Linked DNA regions of Homo sapiens: region 1 is linked to region 2. Evidence: fine-mapped expression QTL. A gene starts in region 2. The other region holds a variant in brackets. All regions are shown on one strand. Distances are between the middles of the regions. Region 1 overlaps SPEN (spen family transcriptional repressor). Region 2 holds the start of ZBTB17 (zinc finger and BTB domain containing 17).

The links.
Region 1: its variant is fine-mapped to the expression of ZBTB17 in whole blood (TOPMed, PIP above 0.99).

What each region holds. Positions count from the first base shown.
Region 1 is chr1:15,936,866-15,951,800 of GRCh38, reverse strand. SPEN (spen family transcriptional repressor) reads right to left here. Exons shown (of 15, transcript NM_015001.3): 12 at 14,156-14,638; 13 at 13,795-13,989; 14 at 12,925-13,083; 15 at 11,345-12,505. The coding sequence ends at 12,374. It overlaps ZBTB17 (zinc finger and BTB domain containing 17), which reads left to right. Exons shown (of 16, transcript NM_003443.3): 3 at 3,304-3,510; 4 at 4,678-4,866; 5 at 5,507-5,647; 6 at 5,961-6,086; 7 at 6,599-6,864; 8 at 6,962-7,104; 9 at 7,201-7,501; 10 at 7,906-7,993; 11 at 8,086-8,202; 12 at 8,282-8,402; 13 at 8,607-8,737; 14 at 9,063-9,272; 15 at 9,381-9,470; 16 at 9,549-9,932. The coding sequence starts at 3,306. The coding sequence ends at 9,832. LOC124903855 (a long non-coding RNA gene) reads right to left here and starts at 1,870. Exons shown (of 3, transcript XR_007065486.1): 1 at 1,439-1,870. RefSeq lists enhancers at 649-698, 1,118-1,905, 2,397-2,566, 3,167-3,276, 8,478-9,677. The variant TTTAA/A (reference allele first, on the strand shown) is at 9,857.
Region 2 is chr1:15,968,185-15,983,119 of GRCh38, reverse strand. It overlaps ZBTB17 (zinc finger and BTB domain containing 17), which reads left to right and starts at 7,019. Exons shown (of 16, transcript NM_003443.3): 1 at 7,019-7,137; 2 at 9,995-10,081. RefSeq lists enhancers at 6,655-7,154, 8,046-8,155 and silencers at 7,156-7,255, 7,296-7,625.

The DNA of each region.
Region 1 (14,935 bases), 31 kb after region 2:
GCTCCCAAACCCTTTTCCTATGTCCCTCCAAGCCTGGCCGTCCTGCTGGGTTCCTGTCGCTGAGGAATAGATAAGAGGGGAACTAGGATACAGGCTGGTGATCCCTCCAGAGCAGTTCACGTGGGTTGGAGGTGGGGGACTGCCTAGTTCTAGCTCAGCCCCTCAGAGGGAAGGACCCAGCCGGCCATGCCTCCGTCTCGCCACGGGCCTTGAGAGAGGGGCTGTTAAAGCTTCCCGGCTGGGGAACAGCCTGGGGGACCCTGAGCTCCACTTGCCCTGTGAGGGTGGGGCTTCGGTTGTAAAGTCCACAGTGACACAGTTCTGCGGGTAACACCATTTAGCACTTAGTCCGCCCCCTCCTGGCCCCCTCGAGCTGCTCTTGCACCCCTGGGAGGCCAGTCCCAGATTGTACTGGTAAGCGCATTTCAGCTGCTGCTGATCTCTCTGTGGGTACAGGGCCCCTCCCTCCCTCCCTCTCTCCCTTCCTTCCTTCCTTCTTCTCTCTCCTTTCCTTCCCTTACTTTGCCCATCTTCACTTCTTCCTCCCCCCTTCTTATCATTTCTCCTGTTTTCTTCCCTTTTGGTGCGTTTCTCTGCTGGGGCAGCCTCAGAGGATTATAGACGCCTCTGTTTCTCCTCCTAACACCCGTGTGTGGGAGGAGCCCACTTCTGGGCGGGCATCTTGCATTGGAAAAGTGCAGTCAGCACGGTGGAAAATGTTGCTCATGGGCACACAGCTGCTCTCTTGGCGGGTGGTGGTATGTGGGGGGCTGGGCCACCACCCACCCTGTCCTTGGGGCCTTTACTATTTTATTATCTAGCGAATGTGTCTTATCTAATCTATCTAGCTTACCCATCCATCCATCCATCCAGTCCCAGGACAGCTGTATGGCTGGGCGGGGCTGCGCTTGCCAGGAAGCCCCAGGGCACATGGCCACAGGGAGGCTCATCCCAGCCTTGGGCCCACACAAGGGGATTGATCCTGTCCCTCCCCTTGGCTAGGAGTCTCCTCACATGTCTCTTCCCGGCAAGTCAGATGGTTTTCCTGCTAGAGGGTTCTTTGTACCTCTGGGGGTTCAGCTGATGCTCCCCAGGTTGTTTTAGCACCTGGGTGGCTCAAGTTTCGGGTTGGCTCCTGGGGAAGGTGAGGAAGCCAGGCACACAGCCTGGAGAGAAGGGTTGGGCCTCACTTGCAAGTTCCAGATGGGCTGCTTCTGAAGCCAGTTGAGGATTTTGCCCTGTGTGGGCCCTGGTATTCCCCTCTTCTGCACTTGGGGCTCCTGGGTATGTAGGGGGTGACTAGCAATTGAGGCCCAGGGCTTGCCACCCACACACCTGTGTGCTCACGTGACCTTTTCCACAGCCAGGAGAAGACAGCTCTAGGGTTGCCGTGGCCTGGGCCCACCTCGCCCCTGCCTTTGGTTCCTTCTGCACCCACCTTGCCCTTTGTGCCCTTCAGGTCTTGATCCACAAGCTGGACATTGGTGCCTCCCCATGTCCAGTGCATAGGAGCAGCGCAGCCACGATTCTCCCTTGCGTTCCTTCAGGTCACAGATAGGAACCTGCTGCTTCCAGGGACTGAGGACAGGAGAGAAAGGCCTCTGTGCTTTGCTCCAGGTGGCCGTGTGCTGCTGCCAGCCACTTGGTGCACTTGGTGCGGGGCCAGCTGCCCCAGGGCCTTACCTCCTGATTTCGGGGCTGGCCCTGGCTCTCCAGTGCTTACACTTAGGGCTCTAGCCACAGCCATTTAGGAATGTCATTGAGAGAGCCAAAGCCTGCGCGGGGATGTGTAGGGGGAGGGAACAGCTGTTTCTGGGCCTCTGGCAGCAGCAGCAACGCTGAACTTGTGGCTCGGAGGCTGGTGCGCTGTGGCTCATGCCTGTTGCCACTGCCATGCTCCCCGTTATTTGTTGCGTCACTTCCCCCCGCTCAGCAGATACCCCCACTTGTGAAAAGTTTCCAGACATCACGTGGTGGGAGGCCTTGGCGCCCTTCAAGGCCGACCTGTGCTGGTGTGAGGGGCGTGGCTTCCTCCGGACTCATCACAGCCCGACAGCCATGCATGGCCACAGCAGCTTCAGAGCTGCGGCAGTGATTCACCCCCCAAGATGCTGATGTCACAGGGGAGTGCCTGAGCCGGGGCAGAGCTGCCGAAACTGGGGGCGGAGAGCCCCAAAGTGTCCCTCTCACCTGCCCAGAAGCCGGGGAGCCAGCCCCGTGCAGACTCAGGCCTCAGAGAAGAGGAGGAGTAGGCAGAGAACTCACTACCCCTTAGCAGATCCTGGGCCAGGGCGTGACAGCCGTGCCCAGTTGAATCTGTCTAATGTGGCCCCAGACAGTGGGTGTTGATTTTTCTCTTCAAACATTCTGAAATGGGTTCTTTCTAGAAAAGAGGGCCCGCTTATTTTCCCTAGACAATTGCTGATGTTGACGCCCACTCTGGGTGGTGTTGGGGCGGGAGGGAGAGCTGTTTTAGATAGTTACTTAGTCACGGCTTGTGCGGTTCAAGACTGCTCGGCACTGGGCCATGGAATTTTCCTGAGCATTTTCACTTGTGGGATTTCCAGGCATTAAGTGAGGCCCTTGACAGAGAAGTTGTGGCCAGGTCAGCAGCTCTTGGGGTCAGGATCAAAGTTGTTTCTCCTGGGATGGCCACCAGGACACAGGTTTCTGGAGTCAGAAGACTCCGCAACTCTAGGTAGTTCCCATGAATCAGAAAGAGAGGGAGAGCTAGGCTTTGTCGGGGGATGGGGTACGTGCAGAGCCTGAGAGGGGCCGAGTTCTGCAACACTGGCTGATGAAACACCGTCTTGTCTTCACCTGTCCATGAGAGAATGAGAAAATAGGAAAGTTTTCTTAAAGACCAACATGTCCAATTGAAACATCTGTCCTTTATTCTGAGATTGTCATGCATTCTTTTTGTAACAAATGTTAAAGTGACCATGTCGTTTCATTTTTGAAATGATGACACATTTCAGTGTTCTGTATTTGTTCCCTTTTTTGGCTTTTTCATGTTATTATCAGGCTGAATACGGAGGCGGCTGCCTCGTGTTGGTGCCCCAGTGCTTTTTGGTTTGGGCCACTTTTCCTGGACAGTAAACCCAGGAATACAGGAGCCACCAGTTGGTTGAGTTTGGCTTGCAGGGGGTATCTGGACTGAACTGCCCTTTTGTGGCAGAAATGCCCTCACTTGTTTTAATTCTGTCTTCTCCATGGTGCTCGCCTGGGACTTTAGGAGTGACTGTTGAGCGTGTCTGACGTCCTTTCTCCGTGCTAACCCCAACGCCCTTTGGCTTTCTTCAGCCATGGACTTTCCCCAGCACAGCCAGCATGTCTTGGAACAGCTGAACCAGCAGCGGCAGCTGGGGCTTCTCTGTGACTGCACCTTTGTGGTGGACGGTGTTCACTTTAAGGCTCATAAAGCAGTGCTGGCGGCCTGCAGCGAGTACTTCAAGATGCTCTTCGTGGACCAGAAGGACGTGGTGCACCTGGACATCAGTAACGCGGCAGGTACCCCGTCAGGGCTGGGGCTGAGCTTGCTGATAGCCAGAAGCTATGGCCGGCCCTGTGCCATGCTAGGCCCTCCAGGGGCAGCACCTGCAGGCTGTGGGATGCAACAGGCCTCCCGCACAGGCTTCAGGCCATGAGCAATTCAGTACTAAGTTCCTCCCACCTTTTGGGGGCCTGTTTTGATTGGTAGTGGAGTGGTAAGGGGAGAACGGGCAGGAAGGGCTCATGATGAGCTCTAGGCCGCAGTGAACACAGGAAAGGCCTCATTGGGAGGGGCAGAGAGTAGGCAGGCTCTATGCCCTCTGGCCCCTTTCCGTGGCAGAGTCAGTCCTGAAGCATCTACCCCAGTGCTAACTAGAAGCGTGGGGAGAGGTGATGGGGAAGGCCTAGGGGCTGGGAGCAGTGTCAGGAAGACCTTGGGGTTGTGGAAGGAACTGGTCCTGGATTCAGACTCCCAACCCAGACTGACGTGACATGCCATGAGAAGGTATTATTCTCCCATTTTATAGATGTGGAAACTGAGACCCAAAGAGGTCAGTGACTGGCCTGGAGGTCAGTCAGATAGAGAGTTGGTAGCAGAGCCCTGATGAAAGTCAGGTTGGAGTGTCCTCCACTGGTGAAGTGTAGCGGCCAAATAAGAGGGTGTGGAGGGCAGGTGTTCACAACATCCGTCCTCAATGCAGGGTGGGCATTCACACCTCTGTCCTCATCCAGGGCAGGCATTCACACTCTGTCCTCCCTGCAGGATGGGCATTTATACCCCCGTCCTCTGTGCAGGGTGCATATTCACACCTCCTTTTCTCCATGCATGGGCGGCATTCACAGCCCATCCTCCTCCATGCAGGGCGGACAGTTGCACCTTCTGTTCCCTGTGCAGTGTGGGCATTCACACCTCCTGTCCTCTGTGCAGGGTGGGCGTTCACACCTTTTGTTCTCTGTGCAGGGCAGGCATTCAGACCCTCAGCGAGCACTTCTTTTCAAGGGCTGTTGGTAGTGCTGAGATCCCCCAGGTTACCTGCCTCCTCTCCACAGAGGAGATGGGGCGATGCAGGCTTGCCACTCAGCTGTTCCTAAATCCCTGCGTCCTGCTGCTGAGTGGAGTGGTGGGGCAGGCTGCCGGTGCCGGATCTTGAGGTGGGTCTGTGACAGCTGTCCTGTCCTTGGTAGGCCTGGGGCAGGTGCTGGAGTTTATGTACACGGCCAAGCTGAGCCTGAGCCCTGAGAACGTGGATGATGTGCTGGCCGTGGCCACTTTCCTCCAAATGCAGGACATCATCACGGCCTGCCATGCCCTCAAGTCACTTGCTGAGCCGGCTACCAGCCCTGGGGGAAATGCGGAGGCCTTGGCCACAGAAGGTAGGTTATTGGCAGCTGCTCCCAAGCAGATGGCCAGAGACCTTGGCTTTTGATGTGGGCTCTGCCTCTGACTTTCTGGGTCTCAGTTTCCTCATCTGGCCCTGCCTCGGTTGTGGGTGCTGGCAAGGGTTAGCCTCAGGTCTGAGGGTGGCCTCTCTGCCTGCCTTTCCCCTACAGAGCACCCGGGAGCCGTGCCTGGTTCAGTGCCTTTGCACACGGGCAGGCTCCTAAACCCTCCTGCGGGTCTGTTCTCCTGAGCCCCTCCTTCCACTTCCCTTAGCTGCTAAGATAAAAGCCCTCAGATGCCCACTATGGGCCAGGTGCCTTGCTGTAGACTTCCAGAGGCTGCGTTCCTCCCTTTCCTAGTGCTGACCTCTGATCAGCTCCCTTAGTGCACACATGGGGTCTGCATGTCCCACACAAGCAGGAACCATCACTGTTGTATTCCCAGTGCCCAGCCATCAGCCTGGCATGGAGTGGGTGCCCTGTGAATAATTTGGTGAATGAACAAATCAGCAAACCACTACTTAGAGGTACCCTAGGGAGGACGAGGAAGACCTAGCAAGTTCTGGGCCACCTCACACCTCCAGATGGCGGGCACTTGATGGGAAACGGCAGGTCTGCCCTGTTCCATCTCCAGGAGGGGACAAGAGAGCCAAAGAGGAGAAGGTGGCCACCAGCACGCTGAGCAGGCTGGAGCAGGCAGGACGCAGCACACCCATAGGCCCCAGCAGGGACCTCAAGGAGGAGCGCGGCGGTCAGGCCCAGAGTGCGGCCAGCGGTGAGTCAGATGCCAAGGACCCAGCCGGCTGTCCTGTCACCTCCCAGCAGCCTGGGCACAGGGTAGTGAGGGCTGCCTTGGGGCAGGTAGCACGGGCACCTGCACCTCTTGAGCCTGTGTTACCCAGAATGACCTATTGTGTGTTCCAGGGGGTCTGTTTCAACCAGAGCAGACACAACAGCCTTGGCTAGGGGTGTGCTGGGGCCTCCCCTCCTGGGTCACACGCAGCCACCACCAGCGCGCTGGTCCAGGAGAGGTATCCGACCCCTGGGCAGAGGGTAGCAATCCAGCCTCCGGTGCTTCCCCCACCCAGGTGCAGAGCAGACAGAGAAAGCCGATGCGCCCCGGGAGCCGCCGCCTGTGGAGCTCAAGCCAGACCCCACGAGTGGCATGGCTGCTGCAGAAGCTGAGGCCGCTTTGTCCGAGAGCTCGGAGCAAGGTAGCCCCGCCCAGCCAGGACCAGGCCCTACCTGGTGCATCCTCCCAGGGCCCTGCCTCCACTGCGCACTGGGGCCTCCCTCTCCTCCTGCCTCCAGCTAGTCCCACCTGGAGTCACCATGCACTTCAGCTTTGGGACACCTTGGTCTTCGCATGTTCTTGAGTCTCGAGGTCGTTCCTTGGTTGACCATGCTAGCCGTGTGTCTGTGAGCACAGGCACGTCCTTCAAAGCCCTGGAGCTTCTGCTGCTTCCCGGCTTTCAGCACCGTGCAGGGGTGCCTTGCCACCCACGGCAACCCTCCAGTGCCTGCTGGCCGACAGCGCCCACCCCAGCTGGCTAAGCCCCCTACCTGCATCCCGCAAGCAGCAAATACCCAGTTCACAGGCCCCCCCGGGGGCTTTCCTTGGCCAGTGCTGGGGCCATTTACTGTCCCTTCCACATGTTGCCGGCGCCCCTCACGTGCGCTCAGGCAGAGAGGGCTGCCGCCTCCATGCTTGCCCTTTTCTCCGCAGAAATGGAGGTGGAGCCCGCCCGGAAAGGGGAAGAGGAGCAAAAGGAGCAAGAGGAGCAAGAGGAGGAGGGCGCAGGGCCAGCTGAGGTCAAGGAGGAGGGTTCCCAGCTGGAGAACGGAGAGGCCCCCGAGGAGAACGAGAATGAGGAGTCAGCGGGCACAGACTCGGGGCAGGAGCTCGGCTCCGAGGCCCGGGGCCTGCGCTCAGGCACCTACGGCGACCGCACGGAGTCCAAGGCCTACGGCTCCGTCATCCACAAGTGCGAGGTGAGGGAGACTATGGCCAGCCCTCCCAGCCAGCGTCCCTCCCCTCCGGCCTCCCACCGGCTGCTCCTCACACCCCGCTTCCCCGCTGCACCCACAGGACTGTGGGAAGGAGTTCACGCACACGGGGAACTTCAAGCGGCACATCCGCATCCACACGGGGGAGAAGCCCTTCTCGTGCCGGGAGTGCAGCAAGGCCTTTTCCGACCCGGCCGCGTGCAAGGCCCATGAGAAGACGCACAGGTACTGCCCCAAGCCGGCCTCCTACCCCGGCCCCTGCCAGGCCCGGCCTTTCACGCCCCAGCGAGCCCTGCCTCCTGTCGCCTTCTGGCCCTGCAGCCCTCTGAAGCCCTACGGCTGCGAGGAGTGCGGGAAGAGCTACCGCCTCATCAGCCTGCTGAACCTGCACAAGAAGCGGCACTCGGGCGAGGCGCGCTACCGCTGCGAGGACTGCGGCAAGCTCTTCACCACCTCGGGCAACCTCAAGCGCCACCAGCTGGTGCACAGCGGCGAGAAGCCCTACCAGTGCGACTACTGCGGCCGCTCCTTCTCCGACCCCACTTCCAAGATGCGCCACCTGGAGACCCACGACACGGACAAGGAGCACAAGTGCCCACACTGCGACAAGAAGTTCAACCAGGTGTGCGGACCCCTCCCGGAACCAGCGCCTGGCAGCCGCCGGTGGCCGCAGCCGCATGCATGCCACGTGGTGGGGCGGGCGGGGAGCACAGCCCCGGCCTCCAGGAGCTCATCAGCTTGTTCACCCAGGAAACAGGCGCAGCGAGAGCCACTTCCGCGGGGGAGCTCCCGGTTGCTCTGCGGAGGGCAGGCCGACTCAGGGCGGGGTTTGGTCCTGAAAAAATGGGGTGGGGCGGCTTACCTCTCACCGCTGGGACCTGGGACCTCTCCTGACCCAGGAGAGATAGAGCCCTTCACGGACCCTGGCAAGCCTGAGAGTCAATTGTTCCTTTGTGGGAGGGGCAGGTGAGGGGGCCCGGGGCCGAGCTCTGTGGGGTGGCCCCCCTGACCCCTCCCTGGGCACAGGTAGGGAACCTGAAGGCCCACCTGAAGATCCACATCGCTGACGGGCCCCTCAAGTGCCGAGAGTGTGGGAAGCAGTTCACCACCTCAGGTAGGGCCAGGGCTGCCCTGGCTGCCCTCACACCCCTGCTCCTCGGCCACCGGTGGTGCCCCACGCCAGGTTCGCCCTCGGTCTCGCCACAGGGAACCTGAAGCGGCACCTTCGGATCCACAGCGGGGAGAAGCCCTACGTGTGCATCCACTGCCAGCGACAGTTTGCAGACCCCGGCGCTCTGCAGCGGCACGTCCGCATTCACACAGGTGGGTGGTGAGCGGCCATGCCCAGGACTGGGAGGGCACGGAGAGGAGCAGGCACCAACACCTTCTGCCCGGTCCCCAGGTGAGAAGCCATGCCAGTGTGTGATGTGCGGTAAGGCCTTCACCCAGGCCAGCTCCCTCATCGCCCACGTGCGCCAGCACACCGGGGAGAAGCCCTACGTCTGCGAGCGCTGCGGCAAGAGGTCCTGCCCCCTCCCCCACACCCACTGGCCAGACACCCCACAGTGAGGGGGCTCAGAAGACAAACTGGGGGCTTGGCTGGGGACTGAGCTGACTGCTGCCCACGCCCCAGGCTCTGGTCCTAGGGGTCCTTTTCAGTCTAGAGGGTGAGGCAGGAGGCCCAGGTTGGGGCAGTTCCATGCGAGTCCCTTCCTGTGGCCCCACAGATTCGTCCAGTCCAGCCAGTTGGCCAATCATATTCGCCACCACGACAACATCCGCCCACACAAGTGCAGCGTGTGCAGCAAGGCCTTCGTGAACGTGGGGGACCTGTCCAAGCACATCATCATTCACACTGGTGAGCTGTGGCCCCTACCATGCCTGTTCCTTCCCAGGCCCTGCTGCCAGGTGGGGAGCAGGGGGAAGGAAGGGACCCCCCAGACCCCAGCCTCGGGTGCTAGCTCTTGCTGCAGGTGGCCTTGAAGGCAGTTCTGTTCAAATGAGGACCCCATTTTCCTAGAGCTTCCAGAGGTGCCAGTGTCACCAGAGGCACCCGTGCAGCCACCCCAGAGCACCTCCTGCTGTAAAAGACAGGGTTGCTGGGCAAACGAGTCATTGAGGGCCTCCCACCCCATCCCTGCGGCCCCTTCCCACAAAGGCAAGAGAGAACCTTGCTCCCCCAGGAGAGAAGCCTTACCTGTGTGATAAGTGTGGGCGTGGCTTCAACCGGGTAGACAACCTGCGCTCCCACGTGAAGACCGTGCACCAGGGCAAGGCAGGCATCAAGATCCTGGAGCCCGAGGAGGGCAGTGAGGTCAGCGTGGTCACTGTGGATGACATGGTCACGCTGGCTACCGAGGCACTGGCAGCGACAGCCGTCACTCAGCTCACAGGTGCGGGCTGTGGGCAGCAGAGGGAAGTCACAGGCAGCTTGCTGCCAGGGTGGCGATGATGGGGCAGTGCCCGTGCCTTCACCTTAGGCCCTGCGACTCTGCCCGCAGTGGTGCCGGTGGGAGCTGCAGTGACAGCCGATGAGACGGAAGTCCTGAAGGCCGAGATCAGCAAAGCTGTGAAGCAAGTGCAGGAAGAAGGTGAGGGGGGCCACCCGGGTGTGAATGTGGGCAGAGCCCGGGGTCCTTCCCACTCTGACTGCTGCCCCACCTCCACAGACCCCAACACTCACATCCTCTACGCCTGTGACTCCTGTGGGGACAAGTTTCTGGATGCCAACAGCCTGGCTCAGCATGTGCGAATCCACACAGCCCAGGCACTGGTCATGTTCCAGACAGACGCGGACTTCTATCAGCAGTATGGGCCAGGTGGCACGTGGCCTGCCGGGCAGGTGCTGCAGGCTGGGGAGCTGGTCTTCCGCCCTCGCGACGGGGCTGAGGGCCAGCCCGCACTGGCAGAGACCTCCCCTACAGCTCCTGAATGTCCCCCGCCTGCCGAGTGAGCTGGCGGCCCTTCTGACTGTTTA[TTTAA/A]GGATGGATGGCACCCTGGAACCGGGAAGGGTGGCCTGTTCCCTAGAGAGAATAAATTGGATTATTTTCTAATGCTGCCTATAGGTCCCTGTGGGGTGGGTGGGGAGCTGGCAGCTACAACTGATGCCACAGAAAGGCTGTACCACCCAGGAACCAGCCTTCCTGGGAAGGTCAGCCCGTCCCTCTTGCTGAATGCGACTAGAATCAGAGCCAGGCTGGCTGCTTTGCCCCAAGTTGAGGAGTGGGCAGTACACTCAGGCTGGAGAGACCTCGGCACCACGTGCCCCATGCCCTCATCCCATCTTGTTTGGAGGCTTCTCACCTGTTCATCTTTAGGGCCTGGCCTCCCCTCGCCCCACAGCTATGACCCTGCTCCCCCTCGGCCCAGGTTGGGGAGAGGTTGGGAAGTTGGGGAAGGGACCAGCAGGGGCGGCCACCAACTGCTTACCAGGGTACAGGCAACCCAGAGCGAGCCTGGCTCACAGGCCACTGCTGCCAGGCCTGGCTCAGGGGTCCTTCCAGCCAGAGTGGCAAGGTAGGCCAAGGAGAGTGCCAGGCCCAGGCCACTGCCCTGGCTCTGATGGGCCTAAGGGAGCAGATGGAAGCCACACTTGCTTCAGGGTTACCTGGCCCGAGGACTAAGGCCAAGCCGGTGCCATCATCTTTTGGGAAGGTTCAAAAGATGGCATCTCTGCCACCAGGCTGGGGGCCCAGAGGGACAGGAAGGAGCAGCCAGGGGCTTTGATGGGGAGGTAGGGAGCTGGTGGAACAGCTTTCTCACTCCTGTCAGCAAGGAGTCAGGAGGTACCATCTCGTCCCCCCACAGTGGCCCCGGCATCTATGGCCCACCGTTCAGAGGGGGATGCTATCTTCTCACACCAGGACAGGCCCATTTGTAGGAGCCCATTGGTATTCCAAGTGAGACCACCAACTTTATAGTCCCCATGTCCCTGTCCCAACTCCACAGCTTCTAGAGAATCCAGCTGCAGGGGAAGCCTGTCCCCAACTCCCATTCTCCTGTCTGGAGGCAGAGACGGGATCAAATGAGCCCCCAGGGGCCCCAGGAGGCCACTGCCTCTGCAGGAGTCAGCCTGCTTCACACTGGGAGAAGGGAAGAGGGGGCAAGAGAGAGACAAGAAACCAAAGCTTGCTAAAATGTTTCTGAGATGGCATGGGGTGTGGTTATATTCTGTATCAAAATTGGAAGTGCCTTCCTTCCACATTACCTAAGAACCAGTTAGGACTCTGAAGACACCACAAGAGTGAGAAATGGTTAAGTTCAGTGTCCGTGACAAAAATCTCCTTTGTACAAGATAAAATTATCCTTGGGGAGGAGGACTGACTGACTAGGAGGCAGAAGGGAAACAGTTCCCATGTACAGACTTGGCATGGGGATCAAAAGCGGGATGAGGGCTGACTGTTCCCATAAGCCAAGGACCCATGGTTCGTCCTCCCACCCAAGTGACAATCACACTCACACTTGGTGTGTTTTATATTTTTTAATAAAGTTTGTAATCCAATGGACACACAAAACAAAACTGCGCTGAGAAAAACAGTTTCATAAATTAATAAGTGTTAGGAAGTTGGGGGAAGAGATCAAGGTAATAGGAAGAGGGGTTAGCCAGTCTTTTTGTACAGGTGCCGTGTGACACTTCCACATCGCGGGAGCAGGACCCGTGCTGTACCGAAGCGCACTTATACAAATGAGTGGGCAATACAAAGTCTGAATATGAAAATAAGATTTCCTCTGAAAACACATTTTTGGCACAGATTAAAAAAAACGTATGTCGGGGGATTTGATTTTTTAAGTCAGTATTATATATATTTATATATATTATATATTTATATATACACACATCCCAAGTTCTGCATATCCCACCAAGAGAAAACCTTTCTGTTTGCTCTTCAACTGTAAACTGTACATCCCGGTGAATCAAAGACGGTGGCAGCAGGAGAATTAAGGTGACGCATCCAAATGAGCAAGGGAGATGGGGGTGGACAAAAAAAACCAATGAAATGTTCCTTGACCCCAAGGTCTCAGCAGAAGTTTGAAGTCCTTCCTGCGTTAAGAGTCTGCAATGTGTGTCTACACACACCAAGACATCCAGAGTGTCACAGCCTGTCTTCACTGGGCAAAAGTCCAAGTCACTAATTTAGTGCAAAGGCAGTTCTGTTTTCTTGTTTCTTAAAAACAAACAAACAAAAAATTTTCATTCCACTGCCCTGTTCCTTTTCTCCAAAAAGAGGAAAGAGAAACCCAGCCCCGGTGTCTGCGAGTCCATGGGTTGGTGATGTGTCCTTGGGCTAAAGCATTATGTAAACATACAAGGTAGCAGCACCACTCCTAGAGGAAGTCTGGCCGACTGAGCCGGGCGGCAGGACAGCAAACGGCTGGCCGTCTGGCAGTGGAGTCTGTCCCCTTCGGCAGCTTCTTCCTCTGCTTGGCTGGGTTGTCCTTTGTTTTTACTGCAGAGCCCTGGGAAGATTCACTGAGGTGATAACCACTCAGTGGCTCACACGGAGGCAATGACAATCATGAGGTGGGGAGAGATGTTGGAGATGCTGGCAAGGAGGTCAGGGGCCAGGCGGGACAGGTGACTCTCAGAGAACTCACAGGGCGGGAAGATCTGCAGCACGTAGGCAGGCTGGAGACAGGATAGAGAGCAAAGTGGGACCGTCTGTCTTCACCCCCACAACTCCACTTCCATTGGGGAGCCCTGAAGAGGCCCAATGCTAAGAGCCAGGCCAAATCAGTCCCCAACCAGCAAATGTGCCAGGACTATGTCTACTGGAAGACCTAGCAGGTGTCAGAAAACTATAAACAGGAACCCCCTGGGGCCCTATCTTTAAACTCATGGAAAACCTGTGTTCTCAGCGGTTCCCTGGGTTCTCTTCAGGATGGGTGATGGCGCCCCGCCCCATGTGCTCTACTGACTTCTGTCCAAAATGCCCCTTTGCCCACCTCTGGGGCCAGATCTAGTGGGCACCAGATGAGTAGGCCCACCTACCCTGATCAGCCCCACCTGTGGGTGTACATGTGAAGGAAGGACACAGGACAACCGACCTGATTGGAGCCAGGGTTGGGAACGTTGATGATCCCTGCCGCCTGCTTGGCCTGCAGGTAAGTGATGAAGGCAGCCTTGAGGGACTCGGTCTGGCTCACAACATCCTCTTGGTCACGGCCACAGGGCAGAGCCAGCAGCAGACAGTAATCTGTCTCCACCTGAGGCAGAGGCCAGCTGCCAGTGAGCAGGGGCCTCCTAGTCAAACAGCAGCCCACATCCAACCCACAGTATCAGGTCCACAAAAACCCCCACCTCTGAGATGACTTTAAAGGCTACCCTGATATTTGAATGAAAAAAAAAAAAAAAAAAAGCTTTTTTTCAACCTGAGAAAGCTGATTTAAAAAATAATAATTTTTAAAAACTGTAAAGCCTTGTTTCTGGGTCTAGAGGTACTTTACATCCCCCCACCAAGTAGAAGCATAGTGGACCCTTCATTGCTCACTTCAAGAATACCGTTACTGGCCAGGCACAGTGGCTCAGGCCTGTAATCCCAGCACTTTGGGAGGCCAAGGCAGCCAGATCACTTGAGGTCAGGAGTTCAAGGCTGGCCTGGCCAACATGGTGAAACCCCATCTCTACTAAAAATACAAAAAATTAGCTGGGCATGGTGGTGCCATGGTGGTGCGTGCCTATAATCCCAGCTACTCAGGAGGCTGAGGCAAGAGAATGGCTTGAACCCGGGAGGCAGAGGCTATAATGAACAGAGATCGCACCGCTGCACTCCAGCCCAGGCGACAGAGACTGTTTCAACAACAACAAGAATACAGTTAATGCTTCCATGACAGGCCAGGGAGATGGGCTGGCAGGGACTACCTACGTCTTCCTCCCTGTAGGTGGGGCAGTTGCTCACCTGGGCCTGAGAGTCTTACCGTCATCCTTCGGGCAACCCCTTCCAGCTGCGTTGCCTCCAGCCGCATCCTCTGGGCGATCCTTAGTGGGGGCCCTCCTTCAGAAAGGGGCAGGGACCGATGGGCCAGGACGTTGTTGCCAGAGACGAAGTGGAGCTGCACAGCAGCTGTGTCATTCTTGAGGGCCAGCAGGCCCTGCCACACGATGGGGTACTTCTGCTCACAGGGAAACAAACAGGAAGTGAGCTCATGGCCCCTCGCTGAGCCATGCTGGACACAGCCAGAGGCTGTAGCTTGTGGGTCTGTTAACTAGGGAATCTTAGGACATTTGACATGGCATAAAACTTGGGGGCCAGGAAGGGCAGCCCCTGCTCATGCTTACCTTCAGAAGTTGAACCATATCCACGGGTCTCTGGGAAGTCAGGTGTGGAGAGGAATCTTGTTTGGGGGCTGGCTGGAATTCAGTGTGTGGCAGAACCAGTCCTGGTGGGGTGCTGGGGCCAGAGGTTGTTGGGACAAACAACGGCTGTTTTGGGGCAGTCTGAGTGGGAAGAGAGACTGGAAGGTCAGGCTTCATGGAGACAGACACAGGGGAGGGGAAGGAAGTCGGGCCTGTTTCTGCTTGTGCCCTCTGAACCTGGGTGTGAGGCTCAGGTGGCCTGTTTGCAGGTCCAGCTGGGAGGCGAGGCTGCTCTACTCCCGTCTGGGTCCCCTTTGCCTCCTGGGACACTTGAGGCATCTTGCTGCTTGGTGGCTGGCCGGGCTGACCGAGCTGGGAGGGCGGGCAGGGTGGTGCAGGCTGGGCAGGCTGTGTGGACTGCACAGGCTGAGGAGGCTGCAGGGGCTCACCTTCAGGAGGAGGGCCCTGGTGTAGGGAAGGAAGGCAAAGGGACAGAGTCAGTCTGTTGTGCACAAGCCCCTGAGACCAACAAATGACCCAAAGGGCCACAGGGAAAGGATAAGATGTGGCATCTCCCGTTAAGTCAGGCCCACAGAAGGAGCCTGAATCAACGGAGCTGCTTTCGGGGTTCCAGGTAAGGAGAGATCCCCTATTACCTGCCTCCTGCTGATGCTACCCAGCAAGAGCTCCCTCCCCATATGCAGAACTCCCCATGATGTGATCTAATACTTTCATCTCAGAACTAAGAAAGCTCTTTAAACT
Region 2 (14,935 bases):
CCTCTTGCAAAATAACTTCCCCGGGTGAGGTCATTACACACTCCCCAGAGAAAGCAGAATCAGCCTGGTCAGATGGAAGGAGGGGCTGCTTCTATCAGCAAAGGAATCTCACTGGACTTTGGATATGGGTAGTCAGGGAACACAAAATCATCTGCATCCACCCAAACATCCCTATTTCAGTTCCTGAGAGCCACTTTTTCCTGTTCCATGCACCTGGTCAGGCTGTGAATACAGCATACATAACAATTACATTACAAATCAGCAACCCATGGGATGAACTCTCTTCAATTTTTGGCTACATAAGCCCCATGGCTATAAGAGATGATACATCTATTGCAGTAGTCAGGAATGACCCCAGGTTATCTGACCCTGCCTTGAGCCAAGAATTTAAACCCCAAATCTTTTCTTATTTGAAGCTCTATGGTGCAATTATAAACAGCCATGACCTTGTTTGCCAGCAGATATCAGCCAAAAGCAGCAGGACTATGGCTACAGCCTCACTTCCTTCTTCCAAATCCCACTAACTGGCAGAACCCATCCATATGTGGGATTCTAATTGCAGCTGAGTCTGGGAAATACATTTTTTTTTTTGAGATGGAGTTTCACTCTTGTTACCCAGGCTGTAGTGCAATGGCACAATCTTGGCTCACTGCAACCTCCGCCTCCCGGGTTCAAGCGATTCTCCTGCCTCAGCCTCCTGAGTAGCTAGGATTACAGGCATGCGCCACCACACTCAGCTAATTTTTAATTTTTAGTAGAGACAGTGTTTCTCCATGTTGGTCAGGCTGGTCTCAAACTCCCGACCTCAGGTGATCCACCTGCCTCGGCCTCCCAAAGTGCTGGGATTACAGGCGTGAGCCACCACGCCAGGCGGAAATACATTTTTAGCGTTTTAGATTCTGGAAAGAATGGATGCTGAGTCCTGATTGATCACATCTAACACAGATAGACCCGGGGATAGATTTGTATGCTTAATATTGGGAAGACAAGAAGGTTCCTAACAGATCTGCTATTATTCTCCCTGTAAAAGAAGAGGTGAAATACAAGTGTTGGTAAGGATGTGGAAAAATTGGAACCTTTGTGTACTGTTGGTGGAATGCAAAATGGTGCAGCCACTATGAAGAACGGTATATGGGGATTCCTCAAAAAATTAAAAATAGAACCACCATAGGATCCAGAAATCCCACTTCTGGGTCTTTATCTAAAGAATTGAAATCAGGACCTTGGAGAGATATTCGTGCTCCACTGTTCATTGTAGCATTTATTCACAATAGCCAAAATGTGGAAACAACCCAACCAAGGGTCCACTGACAGACAAATGGTTAAACCAAATACGGTATATACATAAGATAGAATATTATTCAGCCTTTAAAAAAGAAATTCTGCAAAATTTGACAACAGTGATAAACCTTAAGGACATTGTGCTATGTGAAATAAGCCAGTACAGAAGGACAAATCCAGCATGATTCCACTGTAAACTAAAAATAAAATCCCAAGTCCCCCACCGACTGAACGGACCTCCTTTTGGCTAAGGGGACCCCAGAAAAACCTTAGAGACTGAGTTCCCAGCTACAACAGGGTGGGAGGTTAGACACGTGATATGATTTGGTTGTGTCCCCACCCAAATCTCATCTTGAATTGTAGTTTCCATAAACCCCACGTGTTGTGGGAGGGACCCGGTGGGAGGTGATTGAATCATGGGGGTGATTACCCCCATGCTGCTGTTCTCAGGATAGTGAGTGAGAGTAAGTTCTCAGGATATCTGATGTTTTGTTTTGTTTTTGTTTTTGTTTTAGACGGAGACTCACTATTTTTACTAGAGATGGAGTTTCAGTATGTTGGCCTGGAACTCCTGACCTCAAGTGATCCACCTGCTTTGGCCTCCCAAATTTCTGGGATTACAGGCATGAACCACAACTCCCAGCCTTTCTGATGGTTTTATAAGGGGCTTTTCCTCCTTTTGCTCATTCTCCTTCTTGCTGCTGCCATGTGAAGAAGGATGTGTTTGCTTCCCCTTCCACCATGATTGGAAGTTGCCTGAGGCCTCCCCAGTCATGCTGAATTGTGAGTCAACTAAACCTCTTTCCTTTACACATTACCCAGTCTTGGGTATGCCTTTATTAGCAGCGTGAGAACAGACTAAAACAACACACCTTGATATACTTATTACTTTTATCTATCTATCTATCTATTTATTTATTTATTTATTTATTTATTTATTTATTTATTTATTTTGAGACAGCATCTTGCTCTGTCGCCCAGGCTGAAGTGCAGTGCCGCAATCTTGGCTCACTGCAACCTCCACCTCCCGGGTTCAAGAGATTCTCCTGCCTCAGCCTCCCGAGTAGCTGGGATTACAGACACACACCACCACGCCCAGCTAATTTTTGTATTTTTAGTAGAGACAGAGTTTCACCATGTTGGCCAGGCTGATCTCGAACTCCTGACCTCAAGCGATCCATCCGCCTCAGCCTCCCAAAGTGCTGGGATTACATGTGTGAGCCACCATGCCCGGCCCTATTTGTATTTTAGACATAACAACTGATGAGCATTAAAGTTAAAATAGAGACAATAAGACTGACAGAACAGACTGTGGCAATAACATCCCAAATTATAGACAGGACCTAAGGCTGTGCCACGCAAGGGTTCAGCCGTGCACTCCTACCTTAAAAAATAAACTATGTTCAATTGCCACAAGGTTTTTCTTTTTCTCTAGCAGCTAAACGACTACTTGCCTCGAGATAAACAGTATTAAGACAATTACGACTCATTCAGCTCACAGAGGCCAACTGGAACTCCTGTTCCACCAGCCGTAACTACAGCTTTGGACAAAGAAGGTGATTTCGATAACTTTCTCCAGCTAAGAAGACCACCAACCAGGGACTGGTCCTGGACAGTTTACAGAGGCTGTGCACTTGAATGCTTTTGTGCCCTGAAAAGACCTTTTGACATATAGGGCCTAATTGTAATACATTTATTTAAAATTTTTTTTAGAGACAGGGTCTTGGTTTGTCACCCAGGCTGGAATGCAGTGGCACAATCATAGCTCACTGCAGCCCCGAACTCCTGGGCTGAAGTGATCCTCCTGCCTCAGCCTCCCAAGTAGCTGGGATTACAGGTATGCATTACTATACCCAGCTAAGCTTTTATTTTTAGTAGAGATGAGGGGGAGTCTCATTATGTTGCCCAGGCTTGTCTCCAATTCCCAGTCTCAAGCGATCCTCCTGCCTTGGCCTCCCAAAGTGCTGGGATTACAGGCATGAGCCACCACACCTGGCCTGTAATACATTTAAATGTTAAGTCCAAACATTAGTTCAACCTAAAGTAAACATGGGTCATATATTACCACCTATGTAACAAACCTGCACCTCCTGCACATGTACCTTTGAACTTAAAATAAAAGTTGAAGAGAAAGAACAAATTCTTAAGAGGACAGCTCTCATATTAAGTTTTCTTACTATGATTTAAAAAAAATTTTTTTAAGAAATGGGGAAGTATGGAACCAAAAAGGGGCCTGCATATCCAAAGCAAAACTAAGCAAAAAGAACAAATCTGGGAGCATCACATTACCCAACTTCAAACTATACTACAAGGCTATAGTCCCCAAAACAGCACGGTACTGGAATAAAATAGGTACATAGACCAAACGAACAGAATAGAGAACCCAGAAATAAAGCCAAATACTTATATCCAATGGATCTTCAACAAAGCAAACAAAAATATAAAGGGGGGAGGGGCACCCTATTCAGTAAATGGTACTGGGATAATTGGCAAGCCACACGTAGAAGAATGAAACTGTATCCTCATCTCTCACCTTATACAAATATCAACTCAAGATAGATCAAAGACTGAAATCTAAGACCTGAAACCACAAAAATTCTAGAAGACAACATTGGAAAAACTCTTCTGGACATTGGCTTAGGCGAAGACTTTATGACTAAGAACCCAAAAGCAAATGCAACAAAAATGAATATAAATAAATGGGACCTAATTAAACTAAAAAGTTTCTGCACAGCAAAATAAATAATCAGCAGAGTAAACAGACAACCCACAGAGTGGGAGAAAATTTTCACAAACTATGCATCCAACAAAGAACTAATACCCAGAATCTACAAGGAACTCAAACAAATCAGCAAGAAAAAAGCAAATAATCCTATTAAAAAGTCACATGCTAAGGACATGAACAGACAATTCTTATTTTTTTTTTTTTGAGACAGAGTCTCACACTGTCGCCCAGGCTGGAGTGCAGTGGCACAATCTTAGCTCACTGCAGCCTCAGGATCAAGCAATTCTCCCTGCCTCAGCCTCTTGAGTAGCTTGGTACTACAGGTGCCCACCACGATGCTGGCTATTTTTTTTATTTTTATTTTTTTGATTTTTTAGTAGAGACGAGGTTTCGCCATGTTGACCAGGCTGGTCTCGAACTCCTGACCTCAGGCTATCTGCCCACTTCGGCCTCCCAAAGTGCTGGGATTACAGGCGTGAGCCACCGCGCCCGGCCCGACAGTTCTTAAAAGAAGATACACAAATGGCCAACAAACGTGAAAAAATGCTCAATATCACTAATCATCAGGCAAATGCAAATCAAAACCATAATGCCATACCTACTCCTGCATGAATGGCCACAATCAAAAATGAAAAAATGATAGATGTTGACATGGTTGTGGTGAAAAGGGAACACTTTTGCACTGCTGGTGGGAATGTAAACTAGCACAACCACTATGGAAAACAATATGGATGTTCCTTAAAGAACTAAAAGTAAATCTGCCATTAGATCCAGCAATCCCACTAGCGGGTATCTACAGAGAGGAAAATAAGTCATTATATGAAAAATACACTTCCACACGCATGTTTGTAGCAGCACAGTTCACAATTGCAAACATATAGAACCATCTCAAATGCCCATCAATGCACGAGTGGATAAAGAAAATGTGGTATATATATATAACATGGAATACTACTCAGCCATAAAAAGGAATGAAATAATGGCATTTGCAGCAACATGGATGGAGCTAGAGACCATTATTCTAAATGAAGTAACTCAGGAATGGAAAACCAAATATCATATGCTCTCACTTTTAGGTGGGAGCTAAGCTATGAGGACGCAAAGGCATAAGAATGACACAATGGACTTTGGGAACTCAGGGGGAAAGGTGGGAGGGGTGAGGGATAAAAGACTACACTTTGGGTTGGCTGGGCGCAGTGGCTCACGCCTGCAATCCCAGCACTTTGGGAGGCCGAGGCGGGCGGATCACGAGGTCAGGACATCCAGACCATCCTGGCTAACACGGTGAAACCCCGTCTCTACTAAAAATACAAAAAATTAGCCGGGCATGGTGGCGGGCGCCTGTAGTCCCAGCTACTCGGGAGGCTGAGTCAGGAGAATGGCGTGAACCTGGGAGGCGGAACTTGCAGTGAGCCCAGATGGCGCCACTGCACTCCAGCCTGGGCAACAGAGCAAGACTCCATCTCAAAAAAAAAAAAAAAAAAAAAAAAAGACTACACCTTGGGTAGAATGTACACTGTTCAGGTCATGGGTCCCCCAAAATCACAGAAATCATCACTAAAGAACTTATCCATGTAACCAAACACCATGTGTTCCCCAAAAACTACTGAAATAAAAATTAAAAATATAGTTAAAAAGAACGGGTGAAGTTAGCCAGTTGTGGGTGCACATGCCTGTAGTCTCAGCTACTGGGGAGGTTGAAATGGGATGCTTAAGCCTAGGGGTTTCAGTCCAGCCGGGCAACATAGCGAGACCCCATCTAAAAAAAAAAAAAAGAAAGAAAAGAAAGACGGCCGGGCACGGCGGCTCACGCCTGTAATCCCAGCACTTTGGGAGGCTGAGGCAGGTGGATCACGAGGTCAGAAGATCGAGACCATCCTGGCTAACATGGTGAAACCCCGTCTCTACTAAAAATACAAAAAATTAGCCAGGTGTTGTGGCGGGCGCCTGTAGTCCCAGCTACTCTGGAGGCTGAGACAGGAGAATGGCGTGAACCCGGGAGGCGGAGCTTGCAGTGAACCGAGACAGCGCCACTGCACTCCAGCCTGGAAGACAGAGTGAGACTCTGTCTCCAAAAAAAAAAAAAAAACCTAAAGACAAGAAGGGGTGAAGTCAACTGCTGGGCTTTTTTGTTTCTCTAGCCATTGTGAAGACAGGAGTGAGTTGCCAGATTGGCATATGTTGCATCCCACTGAAGGCTAGTGGACATGAATCTCTAGGGAACAGTCTCCCCACTGCATACTTTCTTCAGCTGTGCTTGGCTGTTTGGGAGCTAACAAAGAGAAAAGGTGCATTTGGATTCACACAGCGTTGGTATTCTTACCAAATCCATGTGACAAAAAGGCAAGGGGGCAAAAGAGCTTACAGTAGTGGCAAGAGTGTTGTTAAAATTATAGATTATGGAAAATATGCAGGCCTAGAAGTAAACAAAGGAGAAAGCCCTCAGACTGTGAGAAAGTGGAGAAGTCAGTGGCCTAGAGCTACCAAAAAGGTAGAAGAGGGGCCACGGAGGGGCCATGCAAGTCTGCAGACACTTTTGTTTTCAGACACCTTTATTCACGTCCAAGACAATCAGGGAAGGGGATAATGTTCGGTTTAGAAGGTAGAAAAACACAACTGGGATCTGCAGCTTTGAAGCCACAAGTAGATTCATATCTCCGGTCCACCACTTACAAGATATGTGACCATGGACATTGATTTACACTTTTTGAGTCTGTTTTCCCTTTTTTAAAATTAGGAGAATAATACTATCTTATAATTGGTGTGAGGATTTAAAGAGATAATGCATGTAAAGCGCTTAACACAGTGCCTGGCACACAGTAAGAGCTGAACACATGATGTTACTGTTATATTTGGAAGAGAAACCAAGGCAGGGGTACAATGAGGACAACTCTGAGCGCCGAAGTACTGTAAGGTGGAACTTTTGGATAGCTAGGCGCATGCGTCTGTCTATGGGCGCTCTCCTAGCGAGGACGCTGCGCATGCGCCGGAAGTTGCAGCCGGGAAGCCTGCGAGGTCGGTTCCGCCCGACTCTAACATGGCGGCGCCCTTTGTCTGCTCTGGAGTGCCGTCCCCGGCCTTCTCGCGGCCGTGATGCACCTCCCTCTGCGGTGGGGTCCGGGACATGGCAGGTGAGTGTCAACAATCGCCCGGGGCCGGGGAAGTCCCGGGAGCCGGGGCGGAGGCGGCGGAGGATGGGGCGCGGTGGGACGCCGGTGACGGTTGTGTGGGGGAGGGGAGGGAAGTGGAATGGGACGCCAACCGGGGCTGAGGGGACACCGCTGGGCGGGAGATTGTGGGGTGGCGGGGCGGGGGGCGTCGCCGGGCGTGCTGGCGGGGAGTGGGCGGCCAGGCGACCGCCCGGGCGAGGGGGCGCGTGTCACCTCCCGGGCTGGATGACACCCCAGCTGGTAGCATCTCCGCCCCCGCCGCACGGCTGTCACCGCCCCTTGACCCCGCGCGCTGTCGAGGGTGGGCGTTCTGCGGCCGCGAGGGAGCGCAGTGCCGGGGCAGCTCCTGTCGGCCGGCCGGGGCGGGAGGGAGCGGGGCTGCCCGGGCCTAGGAGGAGCTGACAGAGGAGGCCGACGCTGTCCCTGTATAAAAGCATTTCATTCATTCATTCGTACTGCGGACGGTGGTTCAGCACCTGATAGATGGTGAAGCTAGAGCGAGTGATGCGGGCGGACTCGATCCTCCAGGATCCTCGATCCTGGAGTTAGGAGTGTGAACCGTGGAGCCCAGCAGCGGGGTTTGAATCCCCATTCCCTGCTGTGACCTTAGGCACTTTTGGCTTTTTCTCTCTGCCTGGGTTTATTCATCCTTTAAGCAGAGATGATAATAAAATCAGCCTCCTAAGATTGTAATAAAGGGGAAATGAGGCTCCTAGAACACTTATGGGTACAAAGTAAATGCTGTGTGTTTGTTGCTGTTATTAATTGTATCACCATTGTCACCCAGAGCTCAGAGACCCATGTGGGAGACATACAGGTAAATCAGCAATTCTGATACTGCTGCGAGGGCAGAAAGCCCTCCTTCCTCTGAAGCACGGAGTAGAGACACATCACTCAGCCTAGGGGGAATCCCGGGAGGCTTCTGTCCCCCAGAAAGCTAAGATCTAAGGGAAGCTCAGCGGAGTGAGGCAGGAAAACGGGTATTCCCAGTTAAGGGTGTAGTTTGTGAGAAAACTCATCTTCGTAGAGAGAGGAGAGAGAGATCAGGCTAAATAAAGAAGCAGACTGGGCCGGGCTCGTTGTCTCACGCTTGTAATCTCAGCACTTTGGGAGGCCCAGGCGGGCAGATCACTTGAGGTCAGGAGTTCGAGACCAGCCTGGCCAATATGGTGAAACCCCCGTCTCTACTAAAAATACAAAAATTAGCCGGTCGTGCTTGCGCGCGCCTGTAGTCCCAGCTGCTCAGGAGGCTGAGGTATGAGAATCGCTCGAACGCAGGAGGCGGAGGTTGCAGTGAGCCGAAACGGCGCCACTGCACTCCAGCCTGGGCGACAGAGCGAGATTCCGTCTCAAAAAAGAAAAAAAAAAAAAGCAGCAGCAAGCTGTGGTCTGGTCTTAGGGGACGTTGTAAACCTAGTTAAGGACTTTAAACTTTAGGTTAATGGGAAGCCATTTAAGAATCAGATCTGTGGCCAGGTGCGGTGGCTTACTCTGTAATTCTAGCACTTTGGGAGGCCAACGTGGGATGATCATTTGAGCCCAGGAGTTTGAGACAAGCCTGGGCAACATGGCAAGACCCCATCTTTATTAAAAGAAAAAAAAAAAAAAAGGAAAAAAAAAATAGCCGGGCATGGTGGAGTACACCTCTGGTGGTCCCAGCTTCTTGGAAGGCTGAGGTGGGAGGATTCTTTTATTTCCAGCCTGAAATAAAAGAATCAGGTTTTTTTTGTTTTTGTTTTTGTTTTTTTTTTTTGAGACTACGTCTTGCTCTGTCACCCAGGCTGGAGTGCAGTGGCAGCATAATCATAGTTCACTGCAGCCTTGATCTGAACTCAAGTGATCCTTCTGCCTCAGCCTCCCAACTAGCTGGGACTACAGGCGTGCACCATAACACCTGGCTAATTTTTTAAATTTTTAGTAGAGATGGGGTCTCACTATGTTGCCCAGACTGGTCTCGAACTCTTGGCCTCAAATGATCCTCCCGCCTCAGCCTCCCAAAGTACTGGGATTATAGGCATGTGCAACCATGCCTGGCCACGAATCAGATTTGTGGATTAGGAAGATCACTCTGGCTAAGTGAAGAATGTATCAAAGGGAGTGGGCCTGTAGGCCAATTAAGAGCCTGCTAGAATAATCCAAGTGAGAAATAAAGGTGTGAGTTAAAGGCAGAGAGTGAGGAGAGATGGTTTTAGCGATAGAATTGACACAATTTGGTGATTAGTTTGATGAGAGTTAGGGGCAGGGAGGAGTCAGGATCACCCCAGTTTTTGACTGATGGGTGTTGGATGCTGCTCCATGTGATAGGGAGCAGTACGGGGAGCAGATCTGGGGGAGGGCAGATATGTTTAGTTTTGAACATGTTGGAGTTGGATGCCTGTAAAACATTCAAGTGCACCTGTTCAGCTAGTAGTTATCACCATCAAAGGTCACTGAAGTCATGGGAGGGGATGAGCTCACCTAGGGTAGGGTATGCAATGAGAAACAAAGTGTCCAGGATATCCCAGAGCAGTGCCAATGCTGCAGTAATGCTTGGATACAAACCTTGTCGTTTTTCCTTCTTAACATTGTGTCCTGTCTCTTATTGAGCTGGAGTTCTTGAGAGCAGGGCCTGAGGCTGAGTCTGTGCATCTTTGTGTCCCAGTGTCAGCATGCTATCTGGCACAGAGCAGGCCATTTATTCAGCACTTCCTTGGGCCAGGCTCTGTGCTAAGCACTCTGTATTTGTCTATGTTTGATGGATGCATGAAAAGGCAGCTCTGAGGGAGCAGGTACCCTTTAGGTTCTCATCAGATTTTCCACTTGTGTGTCATTGATTCAGGTAATGAGCCGGACGAGGGGAGCCAAGCTGGAGTTTACACAGGCAAACTGTCAGAAAAGAGTAGCCTGGGCTGTCTGGAAATCTGAGGTATGTCTGTAATACTCAAGGATGAAACAAATCAGATCAGTTTGTCCTTTTTCTCTAGGTTCAACATGATTCAAATGATTCTTTCCTGATAGCCTTTTCTTCAAAATTATATAGTAATGACAAAATCCCAGTTACAGTTTGGTTGGGAAATTGTTGATCTTACTATTATTGTTTTACCTGCAGAGAGAGGCCAGAGTGGATGATCACTGGGCAATGCTCACGCCTTTAGTTAGGTGAAATCTACAGTGGTGGAAACAGAAGTTTATTCCTTGCTCCTTAACATTCTGGAAGTACACAGTCCAGAGCTGGTAGCACAGCTTGCTGTGTTCTGTGAGATCATCTGGGAGCAGGATTCCTTTGATAATGTGGCTTTTCTTGCTCAAACTTAGGCTTCCATCTCATGGTCCAAGCTGGCTGCTGTAGCTCCTGCCATCATGTATGATCTCCCTAGGGCAAAAAGGGACACAGAGCAGCGAGCACACACTCATTCCTTTTAAAGTTCTAATGTTTAAGGTGGGATTTTTGTGCAACATGGTTCCCAAACATAAGCCAGTTCCTGCATCTGGTGCACAGCTAAAGAACAGATTGTGACTGTTTCAGTGCTGGAGAAAAAGCTGGCTGAGAGAACCTGCTCTGTCCTCAGTCTGTCTGGATTACTCTCTTGGGGGTGTGATCCCAGCCTGAGGGGAGGTCCACTGAGTCCCCAAGGCAGGCTGCTCTGGCTTTGGGTAGGTTTACAGGGCTTGGGCCCAGGGAGGCCAGGCTTGTTTATCCATTCATTGTTTCTGTGCCCAACATGTGTCAGGCATTGTGCTGGGTGCTAGGGATGCTGGCACAAGTAAGACTGAATCCCGGGAGCAGGTGCTCCCAGCCATGTGTATCCTCACAATGCAATGCAGGAAATACCTTGGAGGGCTGGTGGAGGGTGTGCGCACACAGGGAGGATGCACTGGCGCTGGAAGGCTTTCCTGAGGGGGTGAAGATGTTGCAAACCGCGCATTTTGGACTGATCACTGTAAAATTCCCCTTGGACAGGTAGAGGCAGCTAGGACTCTGGGGTCAGGTGTGAATCTGCCCTCCCGTTGAGTGGCTCTGTGTCCTGACAGTCAGTTCCTTCTGAAACTGTGTCCCAAAGAGTTAAAAAAAAAAAAAGTAATGACTATTAATTTTCCTAATCACAAGATTGTCTTCTGACACATCAGACAGCAAGCCTTTTACTCAGTTTCATTGCTGAGCCTCAGTTTCCTCATCTGTAAAATAGGGATGACAGAATTGTTTGGAGAATTACATGAGGACAGGCAGGTAATTCACAGAATTGTCTGGAGAATTACATGAGGTCAGGCAGGTAATTCACAGGGTTTGCTGCATAGTGCAGCACTCCCCAACCTTTTCGTTTTTTTTTTTCTGTCAGCAAAATATATATTTTATATATATAGTGTATATATATAGTGTGTGTGTATATATATATAGTGTGTGTGTATATATATAGTGTGTGTGTATATATATAGTGTGTGTGTATATATATAGTGTGTGTGTATATATATATAGTGTGTGTATATATATAGTGTGTGTGTATATATAGTGTGTGTGTATATATATAGTGTGTGTGTATATATATATAGTGTGTGTGTATATATATAGTGTGTATATATATATAGTGTGTGTATATATATATATTGTGTGTGTATGTACATATATATATATACATACACACATACAGAGAGAGAGAGAGATTTCCCCCACCCACCCACCTACCTACCCAAAACATGTGTCTTAGTGTTTGATTTTTTTTTTTCATACACACAGAATAGGGAATTTCAGAATTTTTACATACATTTTAGCAAACAAGTTTTGATCTATTGGCTTCTTGGTGCAGTAATGGTGCCAAAGGCTCATACTATTACAAGGAAGTTGTGAACACTGATTTCTCAGGAGGTGAGGCCAGCCCCACATGAACTTCTCTTGCATCCCTCTGGTCCACCATGATACATAACTACTTAGACTTTTTTTTTCCCTCTATTGAATCATTAGATATTAAAAATGGAACAACAGAGTCACAAAGGGCCACATGCTTTTCAGTAGAAAGCATTCTCCTTCTCTAGGTTGCTATCACAGTGCAGACCTGACTGCCTGAATATGCTCAGGAGATTTAGTCAGTATTGTCTGTATTTGGTTATGGAAAAGGCTCTCCTGGCTGGGCGCGGTGGCTTACGCCTGTAATCCCAGCACTTTGGGAGGCTGAGGTGGGTGGATCACGAGGTCAGGAGATCGAGACCATCCTGGCTAACATGGTGAAACTCCGTCTCTACTAAAAATACAAAAATTAGCTGGGCGCAGTGGCAGGCGCCTGTAATCCCAGCTACTCAGGAGTCTGAGGCAAGAGAATCACTTGAACCTGGGAAGCGGAGGTTGCAGTGAGCCGAGATCACGCCACTGCACTCCAGCCTGGGTGACAGAACGAGACTCCATCTCAAGAGAAAAAAAAAAAATTAGCTGGGTGTGGTGGTGGGTGCCTGTAGTCCCAGCTACTCGGGAGGCTGAGGCAGGAGAACCCGGGAGGCGGAGGTTGCAGTGAGCTGAGATCACGCCACTGCATTCTAGCTTAGGTGACAGAGTGAGACTCTGTCTCAAAAATAAAACAAAAAGGCTCTTCCTTTTTTTTTTTTTTCTTCTTTAAGTCCAAAGTGCATAGTGAGAGCAAATCAAAACTTTTTTTATTTTTCCTTCTCAGCATCAGTTTCATGTGAGCATCTTCCCATGAGGGCTGCTCAGATGTCTCGCCTTTGTCCTCCTCACCCTTCAAAAATAAGTGAGAGTCAAGCAATTTAGACATTTATCAGCTTGGCAAATAAACTTGGCAGCAAATAGAAGTCCTACTATTGTAAAGAAATTGATAAGACAAAAGGTACATATGATGACCCAACTACTGTGGTGTTGGGTAATTTATAAGGTTGACCTCTGACTTCATTGATGTAAAATCCTATTGGAAATATGACGGCAGCCATACAGAAAAGCATCATCCCAGTGAATGCTATCCATCGAACATATTTTGTAGCTTCTCTTCCCCAGTGGGAAGCCACCAGCAAACCACATGTGACAATCAATGGGAGGGCAGATTCACACCTGACTCCAGAGTCCTAGCTGCCTCCGTCTGTCTAAGGGGAATTTTACAGTCAATGAAATGATTCCCATGATGATAAAAAACAGCATGGTGACCCACTCCAGGGGAAGCTGGGGAGGGATGCACATCCCCTCTCGTCCACGCATTGTTTGACACTGTCCCATGAGGCCCACAGTGAGTGCTCCCACAGACTCCCTGGTGTTGAGCCAGTCTGGGTTGGTGATGCTGGCGATGGCGAAGATATTGGCAGTCAGAAAGAGACATCCTGAGATAATGGTCAATTTATCATCTCCCTGCCCTGCTCCCCCCACCCTCCGAGGCCCAGGCAGGCAGCGGCCTCACACTTCCCACCCCATGAGCGGCCTCTGGGACCTGGAGTCCCCACACTACTGCCTCGTGCCCCCTCGGCCCCCGTGCACCTAGGACCACCAGCCGTGGCATGGCCCGCAGCCCCCAACCTTTTTGGCACCAGGGACCGGTTTTGTAGGAGACAATTTTATCACAGAAAGGGGGCTGAGGGGTGGGGGGTGGGAGGTGGTTTCAGGTTGACTTAAACACCTTACATTTATTATGTACTTTATTTCTATTACTATTACATTGTAATATATAATGAAATAATTGTACAACTCACCATCATGTAGAGTCAGTGGGAGTCCTGAGCTGCTTTTCCTGCAACTAGACGATCCCATCTGGGGTTGATGGAAGACAGTGACAGATCATCAGGCATTAGATTTTCATGAGAAGCTCACAACCTAGATCCTTCACATGTGCAGCTCACAATAGGGATTGAGCTCCTGTGAGTATCTAATGCTGCTGCTGATCTGACAGGAAGCGGAGCTTAGGTGGTAATGGCAAGTGATGGGGAGCGGCTGTAAATACAGGTTGAAGCTTCGCTCACTTGCGTGCTCACTCGCCCGCCACTCACCTGCCATGTAGCCCACTTCCTAACAGGCCACGGACCAGCAGTGGTTTGTGGCCCAGGGGTTGGGAACCCCTGGTATAGTGGACATTTATGAAATGTTACTTACCTCCTGCTGCAAGGTACAGGCTGGTTGGAAGCTGGAGGCCAGTCAGGTTTGAAGTTGAGGAAGGCCCAAACCTGTGGGGACGCCAGGTTGCCATCCTGCCCTGTGGCAGGGGCTATCCAGGTTGTGCATGGACAGTCAAGGACTACTCTGTGCCCCTTCTGTTTTCTGGGAGAGTTCCCCCAAGCTTTCTAATTAAAGTCATCAAACCTTGGCTACTCAGAGACCATATCCTGAGAGATCTGGTAAGGGGTGTTTTGAGGATTCTCTCTGCCTGTTTAATTCCTTCAAGTTCAGATGCTTCTGGGAAGCCTTTTCTGAGCCATTCCCAGTTCCCCCAACCCAAGTGAGTTTGGAGCCCCTCCCCTGCGACTTCTTAGCATCCTGTTTTTGATCTCTATTAACACATTTTCACCTCAATTATGATCCGAGGCTTCCTTGCCTGCCTTCCCATGAGACCGCCAGCATCTTGGATGCAGGACAGGGTCTTATTTATCCTGGTACTGCCACTGTGTAGCTTGTTTCCTGGCACACAGCTGGCGCTCAGCAAGTGTCGGATGAGTGGATGATCAGCCTTGATTGGCTGAGGAGGAACTGGCATTTGGGGCTGGAGAAAACTCCATGTAATTGAGGGCTGAGCATGCTTCTTGTTTATTGGGCATTTGGCTGTCATATGGGAAATAGACATGGTGAACTCTGACCTTAACT